Linked DNA regions of Homo sapiens: region 2 is linked to region 1. Evidence: fine-mapped expression QTL. Tissue or cell type: whole blood. Region 1 holds a variant in brackets; the other region holds the start of a gene. All regions are shown on one strand. Distances are from middle to middle.

Region 1 (8,104 bases):
TGATGCCATCTAAACTCTAACACATCTTCAATCATGAGACACCTTTAAAGTTCAGAGATGTTAAAATATGCACAGAATAGGAAAAATACAATATAGAAATATGGTACACCAAATAGAGTATAGAGTGCTTTCTACATACCAGACACTATTTCAAGTACTTTAATTATATTTTATCCTCACAAATTCCCTTTGAAGTAAATACTATTATTTTACAGATAAGCAAACTGAAGCTCAGAGAGGTTATGTCACTTGATCAACATCACACAGTGGCAGAGCAAGGATTCAGACTCAGGCAGCATGGCTCCACTTCATTATATTTTAAATATAAACATGTTTATGTTATAAATATAAATGTAAACATAAAAATATATGTTTATAAAAAGTATTTAAAAATATTTTTTATGTTATGTGCAAAGTAAACTGACCGATCCTCTATTAGCATCTCTGCAACTAGTAAGTAAAATAGTGAGTTTGGGGGACAGATAATTGAGACATACTGGGTATGTCACTTTCAGAGACTTGGAGGAAGTAACCAAGATGACTGGGTACTAAGACCTGATAATAAGAAAACCTGCTGAGAGGAAGCCTATTGAGGGACAACCTATATCAAACAGAACATGAAGATCTAAACTCATCCTTTTTCACACTGTCCCTTTGGAACATAACAGTAACTAGGCCATTGCAATGCTGCCACATTTGTTTGCTTGTTTGTTTGTTTGTTTGTTTATGGTGCTGCTTTTGGACCAGTAGCAACAGGCAGATGAAGGCAGATGGGAGCTCAACAGTGACACCGTATGGTATAAAGGAGCAATGCATTGATAAAATACCAGGACTCCTTGGGATTAGAAGCTGGAGATGGATAAAAACAGATTTAAGAGATACTTAGGGGGCAGAAGAATGACAAGGATTTGGAGACAGGTTGGATGTAGTAAGGTCAAGGAGAGGGAGGAGTAAAGGGTGACCCCAAGTTTCTGGTGAAGCTAATTCGTCAGAGTGTATAATTACGCCATTTGTTGTTCAAGGGAGTTCAGGAAGAAGAGAAACGACAGAGTTAAGTCAGAGGGTTAGATAAAATTAGATCAGCAAGAAGGATGAGAGTAGATACAAGGGGATAAGGTGAAATGAAAAAAATATTAAGCACCTACTGCATGCCACACTCAATGCTAAGAGTATTGCAAATAATATCTTAGTCATCCTTACTATAACCCTGTGAGTGACTGTGTTATCATGCCCAGCTTACAAATAAAGAAACTAAAACACAGTAATCTGAAGTTACAAAGCAAGTGAAAAACAGACAGGGTTCTAAATCCAGTGCTCATTTCTCTCCACCTGCTCCTCTTAAAGAGACTAGTTGGTCCTGGATTGAGGATCAGGAAGCTAACAAACTAGAACAACAATAAGCTTTCTCAGCAGCAGTGAAGTAAAGCCTGACCAAAACACGGCCAGAGAGAAGACAAAACAATCAAACGTCCTCCCGGTTCCTGCCTTGCCCGCCTGAACCCCCTGTACAAGAGGAGGGAGTTTTAGTGGCCCACTGGATACCTAATGATACATGTGCTTTCATCTGTTGAGAGCCAAGACAGGGAAGGCGAAGCAAGCAGGGCATACAAGCAAACTCTTTCCAGGCCCCAGTGGCTTCTAACCTTCATAAAGAAAGCAGGCCTGGGAAGCCACGGGTCCAACAGGATCTAGTCTTCACAGGAAGTAGATACTATTGGCTATTGCCATCCTTGAGGCTAGGTGAGGAAAGAGAACAACCTCCATATTTCCTAAAAGAACAAATCACTGGCTTCCAAATCTACCCCGCTGTGAGCCTCTCTGTGGCGAACTCCTAGGCTGAGGCACTAGCTAGTACACAATAGCATGAGATATCCTTCCCATGGGAAGGAAGAAAGAAAAGAGGGTAAAAGACTAGGTCATAAGCCAGATTTCTCAGAGACCCAGGGATAGCAACAATTGGGCGTTCAATTAGCAGGGGTAGAAGTGGCAAGAGGAGGGAACCTGAGATGGGTTGAGGAGAAAATAGGTAGTAGAATGGTCTTGAGCCCCACTTTCCACATAGAACTTTGGGAAAGACCACCTTTTAGGGTGTCCCTTGCTAACATGAAACAGTCACAGCAGAGTAGAAATCATACTGTTATGTGTTGTAGTAAAAAGAGGGGCGGATATAATGCTTACCAGTTTCCCACAACTCCCAAATGGCAGGGGATATAGATGATAGCAGAGAATTGATAGCCAGTGGCCTAGATGAAGTTCCTGTGTTGAGGGGCTAGGGACCCTGAAGCAAAAGCCATGGGGGTAGCCAGCCTAAGACAGAGACTGGATGAAGGATTCACTAAAACCCCAAGGATCAGCTATGCCAGCAAATGTTAAGACAAGGACAGGTCAGCAAAGACAGACACTCCAGGTCCCTATTAGTCCAAGAAAACACATCGCAGCTCTACCAGCCCAGGACACAGCAGCACCAGAAGCAGCAATGTCAGGAGGGCAGAGACCAGGCAAGGATGTATCACACCTCAGAAGCCAGCCCACCGGCCTTCCCCAGTACAGGTGGCACCTTGGGAAGGAAAAGGGAGGAAAAGACATTTGAAAGTAAAAACAACCCAGAACTACAGTATAAATTTTCAATTGCCCAGATATCCCAAATAGACTGAATCAGACCAAAAGTGACTGCTTTAAATGAAAGGAGCTTTCTTTAATTGGAAAGGTTACATTCTTTCACTACCAGTAGAAGTTAGGACTACAGAGTAAGACAAGCTCAGTTAGAGAGTAGCTTTTTACATATGCAAATCGTAGTATAAATTTCACTCAGCTACATGCAGAGAGAAAGCACCCTAGATTCCCAAGAATCTCTGTAAAGACACTGAGCTTAGTAGCCCAAGCACAGGAACATGATTCCTAAGGAATACAGGGTATGAGCAGAGCCAAAACAGAGAGGCCGGCCTTTGCAGTGAGCATAGCTTTGATGGCAAAGGAAAGGGCCTGGGACCTCGGGCTTTGGAAGGCTTCATAGGTCCAATAAGAGGCCTGCACCGAAGGTCTCCGGAGGACATTCCAGGACCAAGGCAGGCCATGTGAATAGACATACAGAAAAGGGAAGGAGGAGAGGGAAGAGAAGCAGTACTCACCCATCTCTGCCTGTACATCATGGCAGCTAAGTAGCAGCAACCCGCCTTTTGTGAGCAACTCGATAGGCATACTGGAGACACGGGCCTGCCAAACATTCAGGCGGCTCACCAGCGTCACGTAGTTCTTGATGGGACCACCTCTCATGTCTTCCAGCTTCTGAGGCCCCCAGGATTGCAGGAATTCATAAATGCCTGTTATCCAATGATGTTCCCTGCAGAATTCCTGCACCTTGCACAGCACGCCCTAAGGGCAGACAAGGTGTTTAGGGCAGAGGCATGCGGCTATAATGGGAATTGGTGGGCAGCGCCCTATCCCTTAAACCACTGTTCTCACCTCCAGCAGCACCTGTTGTATATTCAGTGCCTGCTGGATCTTAGGGTTGTTGTCCAGGTCTTCCTCCAGCTGCTTATAATTGTGGGGGAAGTATTGGCCCCGCAGCCGACATCCACGGACCTCCAAGATACCAGCAATTGGGTGAGACTTCCAGGGCCACACCAATCCCACATTCGGGCCACAGAAGATGCTCACAGCATCGCTGGGCTGGCCCTGGAACTTGGGCATCAGAAATTCGTCTTTTGAGTCCTCCTCTTCATCTTCTTCTAGTGGAGCACAGGCCATAATTGTCCGTGAGTACCCTCCAGAGCCCACAAACAATCTTCCTTTCTCCTTGCCCTCAGTGTGTGTACACACACACACACACACACACACACACACACCCATTCGCTGCTCATGAGTGAGTTAACACATACATCTATATCACAAA[C/T]GTAAAATACTAGACCCATGGAGGGGATTTATTAGTTAGGGTTCATGTGCAAATAACATAATTTACTCTAGCTAGTCTAAGCAGGGAGGGACTTATTACAGAATATTAAATGGGTTGCAGAATAATAGGAGAGCTAAAATACAAAACCACTCAAGGTTGAGCATCTAGGGCTGTGTTCTGCCTGGCAAAATGGGATATCACTGTCACACCATCAACTACAGAACACACTGCCTCTGCTATGATCCACAGAACGGATGGCATACGCCCTGACTCTTTCCCCCTCTTAATTCAATTCTGAATCAAAGTCTTTTGTAGATCTAACTGGTGGATCCTAAATTGTATATGACACCTAGCTGCAGGCGAGTCTGGGAAGTGTAGTTTGTAGTCTCTGGCATCTGCAGAACAGAGGAGTTGCTGGGAATGAATATTGAACATGCCAGTCCTCAGTTATCTGTCTTAGAGAATATTCTTGAACCTAGCCACTCATTAACTCTTTAGGAACTGGTTAATTGACAAGTTTAGTATTTGTGTTAAAACTTCGCACAAAATAAAGGAAAGAATTAAAATGTTCAGAATAAGAGCCATACTATCCACACCCAAACCCTGTAGTACTCCTAGCTGATCTCTTCTCTTCTCCAACTGTACTCACTCTCTAGGAAATCTCATCCAGCTTTATGGCTGTAAGTACCATATATTTGCTCCCAGATTTATCTGTAGCCCAGATCTCTCACTTAACTCCAATCCCATTTAAAGAACTGCCTAATTCACTTCTCTATCTGGATGTCTAACATGCACCTCAAATTTAACAGAGCCAAAATGAACTCTAATTCCTCCCCGCCAAAACTGCAGTCTTCCAACTTCAGTAAATGGAAACTCTGTTCTTCCAGTTTCTCCAGTCAAAATCTTTATAGTCACCTTTGACTCTTTTTCACATACAACACATCCCATTTAAAAATCCTGTTGTCGTTACTTTAAAAATATATCCAGAATCCACCAATTCTCACCACATTGACCACCACCTGCCCTCCTCCCCCAGCCCAAGTCACCATCATCTCTTACTGCATTATTGCAAAAGCCTTCTAACTTTTCTACCTGCATTGGCCCTTGCCTCCTATACTTTACAGTCTCTGCTCCATATAAGAAAAAGAATCATCCTTTAAAAAAAATGCCAGAAGGGATTCTGAGAAGATGATGGCAATGGCAGCATCATTTTGAAATCTCCCCCAAATGCCCACGTAAAAATGACAGAACAATTAGATAATAAAACCAAAAACACAAGGATAGCATTTTTTAACAAATGAGGGCAAGGGATCCTCACAGATCCTAAAATACAAGTAGGTGGGGTCAAACCATCTGCAACCTCAAAACACACATGGCATCACCATTTGTGATGAATGATGCAGAGGGAAACAATGAAGCAACAGATGGACCTAAGAATAAGAAAACCCCCAAACAGTCATCAAGCATTTACTGGGAGGCAGAGGGCCCATTTCAGAACAGCAGGTAAAACTGGAAGGGGGTCTTACCCCCTCCAAGAACAGGTGAGGTAAGGTCTATAGAAGCTTAAGTAATCTATGCCCTGTGTACTCTTGAAACCAAACAGTCAGGGCTCCCTTTTGGGACAGAGCTCGTCATGGAGAAAATGCTGGGAGTAGAATAAGGATTGAGCAGCAATAGAGAAAAAGGAAAAGTCTAGATGAAGGTAGGGGAGGGAAACCAGAAAACCTCAGAAAGTAAGCCATCTTTTTTTAATACAGAAAAACAATAGAAAGTGAAACTTAGAGGTTAGAGAACTATTTTGAACCAAGTCTTCTTTTGAAAGTTAAGAAAAGCTAAAATTTCCAGTTTTCTATGAGCAGTAGAAAAGTATCAGCATCAAACCCCATACCAAGCTTTTATAAGAAAAAAACAAAGCGAGGCATAGAATAAATCCCCAGAGACAATGAAAGCATGTCAAAAACCAGAGCAAAACTATAGCCTATTTCAAAACAAGCTAAAAGACAATAGAAAAATGATAGAAGTCATGAGAGGACACATATCAGAATTAGAAAAACTCAGAAATTATGTGACAGAACTATGGAAAGAATTATAAATGAAAGAAAAAACAATTTCATAATGGAAATTTAACTAAAATGGGACATAAGAGCAAACAAACTCGACAGATAATTTCTCAAGAAAAATAGAAGGCAAAATAAGGGTAATTATACAACTAAAAAGGAAATAAACAATTTTAAAGATTTCAAGAGAAAGGGAAAAATATTGGGGATGGGTGATAAGGATCTAATGTATCAGTAACAAGATTCCCCCAAGAAAAAAACAAAGCAAGGGAAGAGAACAAATATTAAAAACCGTAATTCAGAAAAATTGTTCTGAAATTTAAAAAAAGATATAAAGCCACATTTTGAAAGAACATACCTGACAATCCTTCCCCAGAATGTTCAATACCAACACATATTCTAACAAAAATAACTAGATTTCAATAAAAAAGAAAAAAAATCTAGGCAAAAAGAACAAGTGATTTTGTAAAGCAAATAAAATTAGACTATCGAAGGCTTTTTGATAGCAACTCATAATGTCCTAAGAAAACATAGTAACATATTTAAGATACACAAAGGAAAAAAGTATAAACCAACAACTTTATATCCAGCAACACTAACTTTCAAAAGGTACAAATTGTTATCAACATAGAAGAACTTCAGAATTTTGTCCCTACAAGCCCTTCCTGAGGAATTTAGTAAAAAGTGACCTTCAGACAAACAAAATTACTAGAAAGACATCAACACAAGGGCTGCTAGTGGGCTTAAAGATATTGTTACTTACAGAACTAAGATTAAGTGAGGGATAGAAGGGAAAGAGTATAGTATGAAATGACGATGTAGAGAATGCTGGTGATTATCTTGCTTGCCAGGTGGACAGAGCCTACCTGAAGAATGGAACTCTGAAGGTACATTGGTTGATTACTCAATAGCTATTCCCTTCTCCCTTCCTCTATTGTTGTAGAACCATCTCCCATGAGACACTGAGAACGTCAGCCATTTGATTTCCTAGCCTATCTTACAGCTAGAGGTAGACAGATGACGCAGATTTTGATGGTGAGATGTAAAAGTGAGTCTGATGGGGAGTTTCCGGAAAAGATTCCTTTTCCTGGCAAAAAGTGAGAGTCAGACACAGAGCTCTCTTGTTAACCTTGCCTCTCCTTTTCTGCCTGATTTTGCTTGAGAATGGGATGCTTGACATTGCAGCTTGTCTTGCAACTATGAGGCAACAAGCCTGAGAATGAAAAAACAAAAAAAATGAAAACCACTTTATTGTGGCCTCCTCCGCCACACATAACTCTCTTACAGAATCTGCTCTTAAATATAGCTAAAAGCAGGAAAGAGTGATGGAAAGATACAAAGAACCTGGTACTTGATGACCACTTTTGAGCCACAGAACAAACTCTGGAAGCACCTACTTCAAGACTTCTTGTTTTGTTTTGTTTTATTTTGTTTAGGCCACTGCAGCTGAATCTAGCTGCATCATGAATTTTTTAGTTATAGGTGCGTACGTAGTTTTGAGTTAAGATTACTTAATCCAAAATCAACCCCCATACTCAGGCCCATATAATAGACGTTTATAGCCAAACACAAGCATAGCTGAAGACTGCAACCTCCCCCACCATACACAGCCTTCTAAGAGGATCTACCCTTGCCTATAGCTAAAAGCCAGTTATTTTGCACCATGACACATCCCCTTGCCATAGCTTATGAATAAAGCATGCAATCTACAGGAGAAGCTGAATCAATCATACTCCTTGTCTTGAAGTTTGAACTAAATCAGTCTCACGGACAGGAAAACTCAAATATCATATAAAGTCAAGGATGGAGTCGGTGTCATAAAAAGTTTAAGTTATTTGAAAGAAGTAGTTATAAGGGAACAGAAAGTCCAAAGGAAGGAGAGATAACTGGACTCAGGAATCAGGGCAGAGGAACTGGAAAGATACACAGAGAGAAGAGATGAAAAAAGGGATAAGCAGAAATTTGAGAGACAGGGGTTCTCTTCCTGATATTCTACTTTCAAATTCTGTGAAGATGGGTGCTGTTACTTCTTCTCTACCTTTGAAGTTAGTAATTGTCTGTTTTGTGAGCTCCAAAATATAAGACAAGCTTGAAGAGCAGTGATTCTAGGTGCCAAGACCTATGAGAGTGCTCAGGCAATATGGTGCTATACAAA
Region 2 (8,101 bases), 31 kb after region 1:
CTAACTACACTCCCTCTCTCTCTCTCTCCCACCTGCAGAGAAGCAGCCAGGCAAAAGACAGTATTCTTTTGTTTTATAGCACTTATTACAATTTGTAATTATATTTTACTTGTTATCAACTTAACTATATCTCCCTAACTAAACTGTAATACCTCAAGTGAAGGGATTGAGTCTGTCTCATTCACTTCTGTATCCCTAGCATCTTGCAGATCCTAATAAATGTAGCTATCCAACACTTATTGAATGAATGAATGCCTGGCAAACCACTCCGGGAGAACGTAATGCAAATTAAGCCATATTAGCTAGACCTCAGAGGTTTACTGCCAGGTTCAAAGGGAGGGCAAAGAACTTGATCCCTTCCCAACATCTCAGCCCATGCCAATTCAGTCAAGTTCTCCCAGGAAAGGAAACTTGTACTCAAGGCACAGGGCAGCTCTTTGAAAAAGGAAAAGATTCCAATAGGGCCACCATAAATTTATGGCATTGGCCACCTCCCATTAGGGCCCCAGGAGCCTGCCTATCTATCTAACATTAGGCTTTAATGGAAAGACTTGACCCAGCCATAAACTTACAGCAAAAACTGAGGAAGCCAACCTTAATTAAAGGTAAAACTAGCCTTCTTCCCGAACAGTAAATGTGCCACAGACAGCTGCAAAGCATTGTCTAGAAAATGAGGCCAGAGGACAAGGAGAATTCCAAAACTAAAGTTAAAAAACTCTCTTGGGCACGGTGGCTTATGCCTGTAATCCCAGCATTTTGGGAGGCCGAGGTGAGCAGATCACTTGAGACCAGGAGTTGGAAACCTAGCCTGGTCAACATGGCGAAACACTGTCTCTACTGAAAATACAAAAATCAGCTGAGCGTGGTGGCATGAGCCTGTAATCCCAGCTACTCGGGAGGCTGAGGCAAAAGAATCGCTTGAACCTGTGAGGCAGAGGTTGCAGTGAGCCAAGGTCAGGCCACTGCACTCTAGCCTGGGCGACAGAGTGAGACTCTGTTTCAGAAAAAAAAAAAAAAATCGAAAGTTAGAGAACGCTGAGAAGAGAAGGTCTCTGTAAGCATTCTGAAATCCTGTAGAGAGCTCTGATAGCCAGATATTTTAAAAAAGAAAACAATAGGGCCGGGCGCAGTGACTCACGCCTGTAATCCCAGCACTTTGGGAGGCAGAGGTGGGCGGATCATGAGGTCAGGAATTCGAGACCAGCCTGGCCAACATAGTGAAACTCCGTCTCTACTAAAAATATAAAAATTAGCTGAGTATGGTGGCACGTGCCTGTAGTCCCAGCTACTCAGGAGGCTGAGGCAGGAGAATCACTTGAACCCGGGAGGCGGAGGTTGCGGTGAACCGAGACCATGCCGTTGCACTCCAGCCTGGGCGACAGAGTGAGACTCTATCTCAAAAAAGGAAAGAAAGAAAGAAAGAAACAAAAGAAAAATATATCACTCAAGGGGCCAGAGTGCCCACACTGGCAGGGCAAGAAGAAGACTCTGGAAGGGTCAAAATGAAATTCTATCCAGTAGTGCTGCCAACTCCACTCTGCCTTGGAGCCGGTTTAAGTCACATAGACATGTGGGAAGGACACTCGGACACACATTCCCCAGGGGTACCTTGAGGGAAAGACCCAACATCCAGGAATCAACTCACAGTAGGCCCAGGCAATGTTCAGTGATTATGAATGAATTATAGAAAAATAATTAAGGAGACTTCTGACATCATCTAAGAAAAAAACCTGGAAACTGAAAAGTCAAGCTGTTATTCTAAAGCTTTGGCTGCCTCATAGCTGACTTCTGATTTTCATTAATTTCTGTATTTCTCTATGGGGATTAAGACTAACACCACTGGGTTTATTTTGCAGAGAAAAAGGAAGAGGAAAGTAGCCTCACACTAGCTTTGTGTGGAGTTGGGCTAATCCCTGTGATAAACAGAGAGCTGGATCTAAACTTCCAAGTGACCCCAGAGGCACCCATAAAACAGCAACTTTTTCTCCTCTGCTCAAGCCCTAGACTGAGTCCCTCACTTACCTGGTCTCTTTTCTTCCAACAGGCTCCACCTCTGCATTGTCAGTGTCACTGCTTTCATACCGTACAGGGATGTCCGCTGCCAGTGCCAAGGGAAGGAGACTAAGTCCATCCAGCCACACAGCCTCTTCTAGGGCCACCTGAGCACCAACAATGCCCAGGCAGCGCTGTAGCTCAGGCAGTGTCAATGGTCGCAGCCAGGTGGCCAGCTCCTCCTTTACTTGCTGCCTGCTCCACTGGGCCTGCACAAAAGGGCAAGCTGGGCATGGGGGCCTGTGATGGAGCCTCCGCTTCTGGGGACAGCAGTCAGCATGGGAAGCACTGTCTAACAAAGAGCTGTCTGGAGGAAAGGCCTGGACAATGGCACCTAGCAGGTCCAGATGGAGGTGGGTTTGGACCCAGGGTGCCCAGCAGTACAGCTGCTCCAGGAAGGGCAGCAAATCAAGGTGGCCAACTAGCAACTCACGATATGGAGGCAGTAGACCCAGTACTGCATGAAGATAGCGCCAAGCTGCAGGGCTACTGTCCTGCAACACAGCTGAGAACAGAGTTCGGAGCTCAGCTAGCAGGAGTTCCAGCACTGTGGGCTGCTCTGACTCAGTCACTGGCTTCACGAACTGCCTCTGTTTCTGCTGGCAGGCCAAGGGCTGTTCTTTGCTGTCCAAGACACATATGGAGTGCCAAGACTTAAGGGAATCAGATGATGTCTCATCAGAAGACAAACCTACCCTCCTCTCCTCCGGGACCATGAGGAGCTGGGCATTCAACTGCTGTCGAAGTGACCTTGCCCATAGCTCAGGCTCCAACTGCCAGTTCCAGGATGCCAGATGCGGGGCCTCACCTGCATGGGCCAGCCCAGCAGAGGGGCCAGAGAAGGGACCTCAGGCTCTGGGCAGGGGATGGTCAGAGTCAATGGGGTTAGGAGGAAGAAAGGACCTGGGACAGGGAAATAGATGGAGCTACAGAGCAGAGCCAGACCAGCAGAGAGCCTTTCCTGAGACCCTCAGGCCCTCCCTACTGCTTCCCCAAAGACTCTGGTAAGGAGCAGGCCTAAGACAGACGTGAGAGCCCTCCTTGCAGAAGAGTTCCTTCTTACCTCCCAGTACCCTGTCCCCCTCACCTGGCCTAGGGGGGTTAGGAGGCAAGGCAAGGGAAGAGAGCCCGATCTGCTGATGAGGTTTCATTGAAGAGTGCCTGCTGGAGCAGTGAATGAACTTAGACTTGAGTTCCAGTCTGAGGCTCACCCTAATCATAGCCACCCATACACGGAGAGACTCGCACACAGACGTGCAATCACCTGAAGAGGCAAACTGACACACCGACAGAGCTCACTCTGAACCTCGGTCACAGCAAGGAATCTGCACTCGAGCTGGCGATCGCCTGAAAAACGGGTTAACAGGTCGTCACTCGAAGGCAGCAGAGCCCCAGTCCCATGACGTCTTCGCCCACAGCCTAAGGAGGTCGTGAAGACAGAAAGCCGAGGAGCAGGCACAGCAAATGATGGTCAGGATGCAGGTAGGGGAAGACGTTAACAGGCAAAGGAGGGGGCTGGGAGAGCGGGGAAGAGGAGGCGGACTCTGTGGGAGGGGGTCCTAGGGAACAAAGAGAAATGGATCCGGAGCCGAGGACTCACCCGCAGCTCCACCCGCACCCAGCTGTTAGAACCGTTACAAGATTCCAGAAGGACCGAGTCTTTGCCAGGAGCATCCGGGGGAGCCAGAAAGAGGAGGGGCCAGGGTCCGATATGGGCGGGGCCGAGAGGGCAGAGCCCAAGCCTGGAGGGGCAGAACTAGGTTCAACCTGTGGGCTAAGGCTTGCCTGGGACAGGGACCTGTAGAGGACCAGGCGGGGTCTGAACTGCACGTGCAGTACGGTTGACTCGGGAGACTAGCAATCCAGAGGGTGTCGTAAGCAGGTGTTTATATCCATTCGCTGAGTATCTAAACTAGTGCCAGGTCTTTGGTATGTCTTTGGTACTCCCCCATCCCCACCCCCAACGTATCCATCTACCCTATCCCACCTCCCCAAAAGAAGCCCGAATAAAACAAAATCCTTGATCTCAAGGAGCTCAACATCTATTTGGCACGGGGGGAGGGGGATTTTTTGGGGAAGGGCTTATGGAGGGGCTAATTTTTAAAAATTAAGTTGAATGAGGCCGGGCGCGGTGGCTCATGCCTGTAATCCCAGCATTTTGAGAGGCCGAGGCGGGTGGATCACGAGGTCAGGAGATCGAGACCATCCTGGCTAACACGGTGAAACCCTGTCTCTACTAAAAATACAAAAAAATTAGCCGAGCGTGGCGGTGGGCGCCTGTAGTCCCAGCTACTGGGGAGGCTGAGGCAGGAGAATGGCGTGAACCCAGGAGGCGGAGCTTGCAGTGAGCAGAGATCGCGCCACTGCACTCCAGCCTGGGCGACAGAGGGAGACTCTATCTCAAAAAAAAAAAAAAAAAAAAAAAAGTTGATGATTAAAATAAAAAAAGAAATTCAGCCCACCTCTCCTCTGAAATCAGATTAGTATATCCAACTGCCTACTTAATGTCTCCACCTGGAGAGCTTATAGGTATCTCAAACTTAAAATGTCCAAAAGCAGGCTCCTAACCACCCTTTCCCCACCAAAGAAATGCTGCTCCTTTCACTGTCTTTCCCACCTCAGTCAATGGCAAATCCATTCTTTCTGGTTTCTCACACCAAAACCTTGGAGTCAGCTTTGAGACCTCTTCCAAACCCCTTCTTTCTCTTTCCCTCTTCTTTTTCCCTTTCTCTTTCTCTCTCTCCCCCTCCCTCCATAAGTAATCCTTCAGGAAATTCTGCTGGTTGTGCCTTCAGAATATATCCAGAATCCAACTATTTCCCACCATCTTAAGTACTACAACCTTGGTCTAAGCTGCTATCATTTCTCACCTGGGTTTTTCCACAGCCTTTGAACTGTTCTCCTTGCCTCAGATCCTTCTCATGCTTCTCACCATTGCCCCTACAATCCATTCTTTTTAGAGCAGCCAGTGATCCTTTTCAAATATAGGCAGATCCTATAACTCCTCTGCTCATAGCTCACTAATGCCCCCTCATCTAATTCCTTCAGCTGAAGGCCAAAGTCCTATCATGGCCTACAAATTGCTGATAACTGCCTGCTACCTCTGTAGGCTTCTCTCTTCACATTCACACTCTACTACTGCTGTGCCTGAATCACACCAGCCATACCCCCACCTCACAGACTACATACAAGCTGTGCTGTCTGCTTGTGTATCAGTTAGGAGATACACAAGTTATGACTGTTATTTATTTATTTTTTTGTAGAGACAGGGTCTCACTATGTTGCCCAGGCTGGTCTCGAGCCTCTGGCCTCTAGCAATCCTCCCACCTCACCCCTAAAGTGCTGGGATTACAGGCGCGAGCTATTATGCCCGGCTGTGATGGTTAATTTTATTTGTCAATTTGACGGAGCTAAGGGATGCTCAGATAGCTGGTAAAGCATTATTTCTGGGTGTGTCTTTGAGGGTATTCCTGGAAGAGATTAGTATTTGAATAGGTAGACTAAGTAAAGATCATCCTCACCAATGTGGATGGGCATTGTACAATCTGTTGCCTAAACAGAATTTAAACAGGCAGCTGGTGGACTTGCTGTTTTAGCTGAGACATTCATCTTCTGTCCATGGACATCAGTGCTCCTGGTTCTCAGGCCTTCAAACTTGGATTGAATTCCACCACCAGATTTCCTGGTTCTCTAGTTTGTAGACAGCAGATTGTGGGACTTCTCAGCCTATCAGTTCTGTTTCTCTGGAGAACCCCCACTAACGCGCAAGTTTTCTGGAGCTGCATAACAAGTTATTACAAACTAAGCAGCTTAAAAACAACACCTATGTAGTACCTCACAGTTCTGTAGATCAGATGTCCAGCATGACTTTACTGGATTCTTTGCTCAGGGTATCATAAGCCTGAAGTCAACATGTTGACGGGGCTACTCATCTGGTGGCTCTAGGGGGTGGGGGGTGTGGGGGGATCCACTTCCAAGCTATTATTGTTGTTGGCAAGATTCAGTTTCTTGCAGTTCTAAGACTGATGTCCCTGTTTTCTTCATGGCCATTAGCCAGGAGCCACTCTCAGGTCCTAGAGGCCACCTGTCTTCCTTGACATGTGGTTCCTCCATTTTCAAGCCAACAACAGTGCCTCTAACCCTTCTCATGCTTCACACTTTTCTGATGTCCCCTTCTGCAACCATAAAGAAAACACTCTGCTTTTAAAGGGCTCATGTGACTCATGTGACTAGATCAGGCCCACCCAGACAATCGCTCTTACAGTCAACTATGCCATATATTATAACCTTCTCACATAAGTAAAATTTGTCACATTCACAGTCCCATGGAATATGCAGCGTATACTAGGGAGATATATACTAGAGAGCAGGAAATCTCAGAGACAGTGGTCCCCAACCTTTTTGGCACCATGGACCAGTGTAGTGGAAGACAATTTTTCCACGGACCAGGGGAGGGGTTAACGGTTTCAGGATGATTCAAATGCATTACATTTATTGTGAGCTTTACTTATTTTACTATCACATTGTAATATATAATAATTATACAACTCACCATAATGTAGAATCAGTGGGAGCCCTGAGCTTGTTTTCCTGCAACTAGACAATCCGATCTGGGGGTGATGGGAGACAGTGACAGATCATCAGACATTAGATTCTCATAAGGAGCATGCCACCTAGCATGTGCTATTCACAATAGGGTTCATGCTCCTATGAGAATCTAATGCCACCAATGATCTGACAAGAGGCAGAGCTCAGGTAGTAATGTGAGCGATGGAGAGTGGCTGTAAATACAGATGAAGCTTCACCTGCTCACCCACCACTCACCTCCTGCTGTGTAGCCTGGTTCCTAACAGGCCATGACTGGTACCAGTCTGTGGCCCGGGGGTTGGGGACCCCTGATCTAAAACTTCTACCTACCACACAAATGCTGTAATAAAAAGACCCAAAATATCATGGCTTAAACATGATAGTTTATTTTTTTCTCTCACATAACCATCCAAATATAAGTACTCTGAGGCTACCACGGTAGCCTTCAGTTGTTCTGCCTTCTCCAAGGAAGTAGTCCTCATCTTTAAGGTCCAAAATAATTTACCACCATGTGTGCCACGTCCCATCCCAACTAGTGAGATGGAGGGAAAAGGAAAGGAGAAGGCATACCCTTTCTTTTAAGGGCACAGCCTGGCAACTGCACACATCAATCACATGACCAAGCCTAGCTGTAAGGAAAGCTACAAAATCTAATCTTCATTTTCAGTGGTCATATGCCAACAGAAAATTTAGAGGTTCTTTACATAAAGAAAGGAGACAATGGATACTAGAGGACCACTAGTGGTTTACACAACTAGTTGAACAGTAGAAGAGTGAACACTTCTTCAAGATGCTCTCAAGGCTTACTCTCTCAATTCTCTGCTCAAATGTCACCTTATTAGTGAGTTCTTCCCTAACTGCCCAACAGAAAATAGCAACTCTCTCCCCAACATCCTTATCCTCTTTACTTGCATTACTTCTCTCCACAGCACTTATTACCACTTCATATAAATACTTATTTATTTCCTATTTCCCCTGACTAGAAATATAAGCTCCATGGTAGCAGAGATTCTGATTGCTGCCTACTCTATCCCCAGCTCCTATACTAGGCACCATGAGTACATGATCAGAAAATATTCATGGAAAAAAATACATAAATGTATAACAATCTTCATTTGTGAGTAAGAAGATGGGCTCTGGAATCAGACTGCCTGGATTGAAATCCTAACTTCATCACTTACTAGTCATGGGATATTTTACCTCAGTTTCACTTTTTGAAAATGAAGATAATAATGTCTACCTTATAGTATTGTGAGGATTAAGTGAATTAATGCACACAAAATGCTTTAGAATAGAGCCTGGTAAGTAGTAGACATTTGATATAATTGTTAAGTGTTTAGTTGTTATTAATTTTGACATAACGATGAACAAGACAAAGGATTCAGTGAGGGCATGAATAAAGAGCATGGACAACTCTTTCATAAAAGGGCAAGGAACGGTACCTGAGTCACAATAGTCCTTA

What was found. PIP is the estimated chance that this variant, and not a neighbour inherited with it, causes the effect.
Region 2: it holds the start of DNHD1, and the variant in region 1 is fine-mapped to the expression of DNHD1 in whole blood (INTERVAL, PIP above 0.99).

Annotation. Positions count from the first base shown.
Region 1 is chr11:6,524,146-6,532,249 of GRCh38, reverse strand. It overlaps DNHD1 (dynein heavy chain domain 1), which reads right to left. Exons shown (of 43, transcript NM_144666.3): 11 at 3,463-3,728; 12 at 3,129-3,372. Among named protein-coding and RNA genes, the nearest start is that of DNHD1, 31 kb to the right of the region's middle. The variant C/T (reference allele first, on the strand shown) is at 3,893.
Region 2 is chr11:6,492,883-6,500,983 of GRCh38, reverse strand. It overlaps DNHD1 (dynein heavy chain domain 1), which reads right to left and starts at 3,704. Exons shown (of 43, transcript NM_144666.3): 1 at 3,653-3,704; 2 at 3,317-3,399; 3 at 2,023-3,213. The coding sequence starts at 2,768.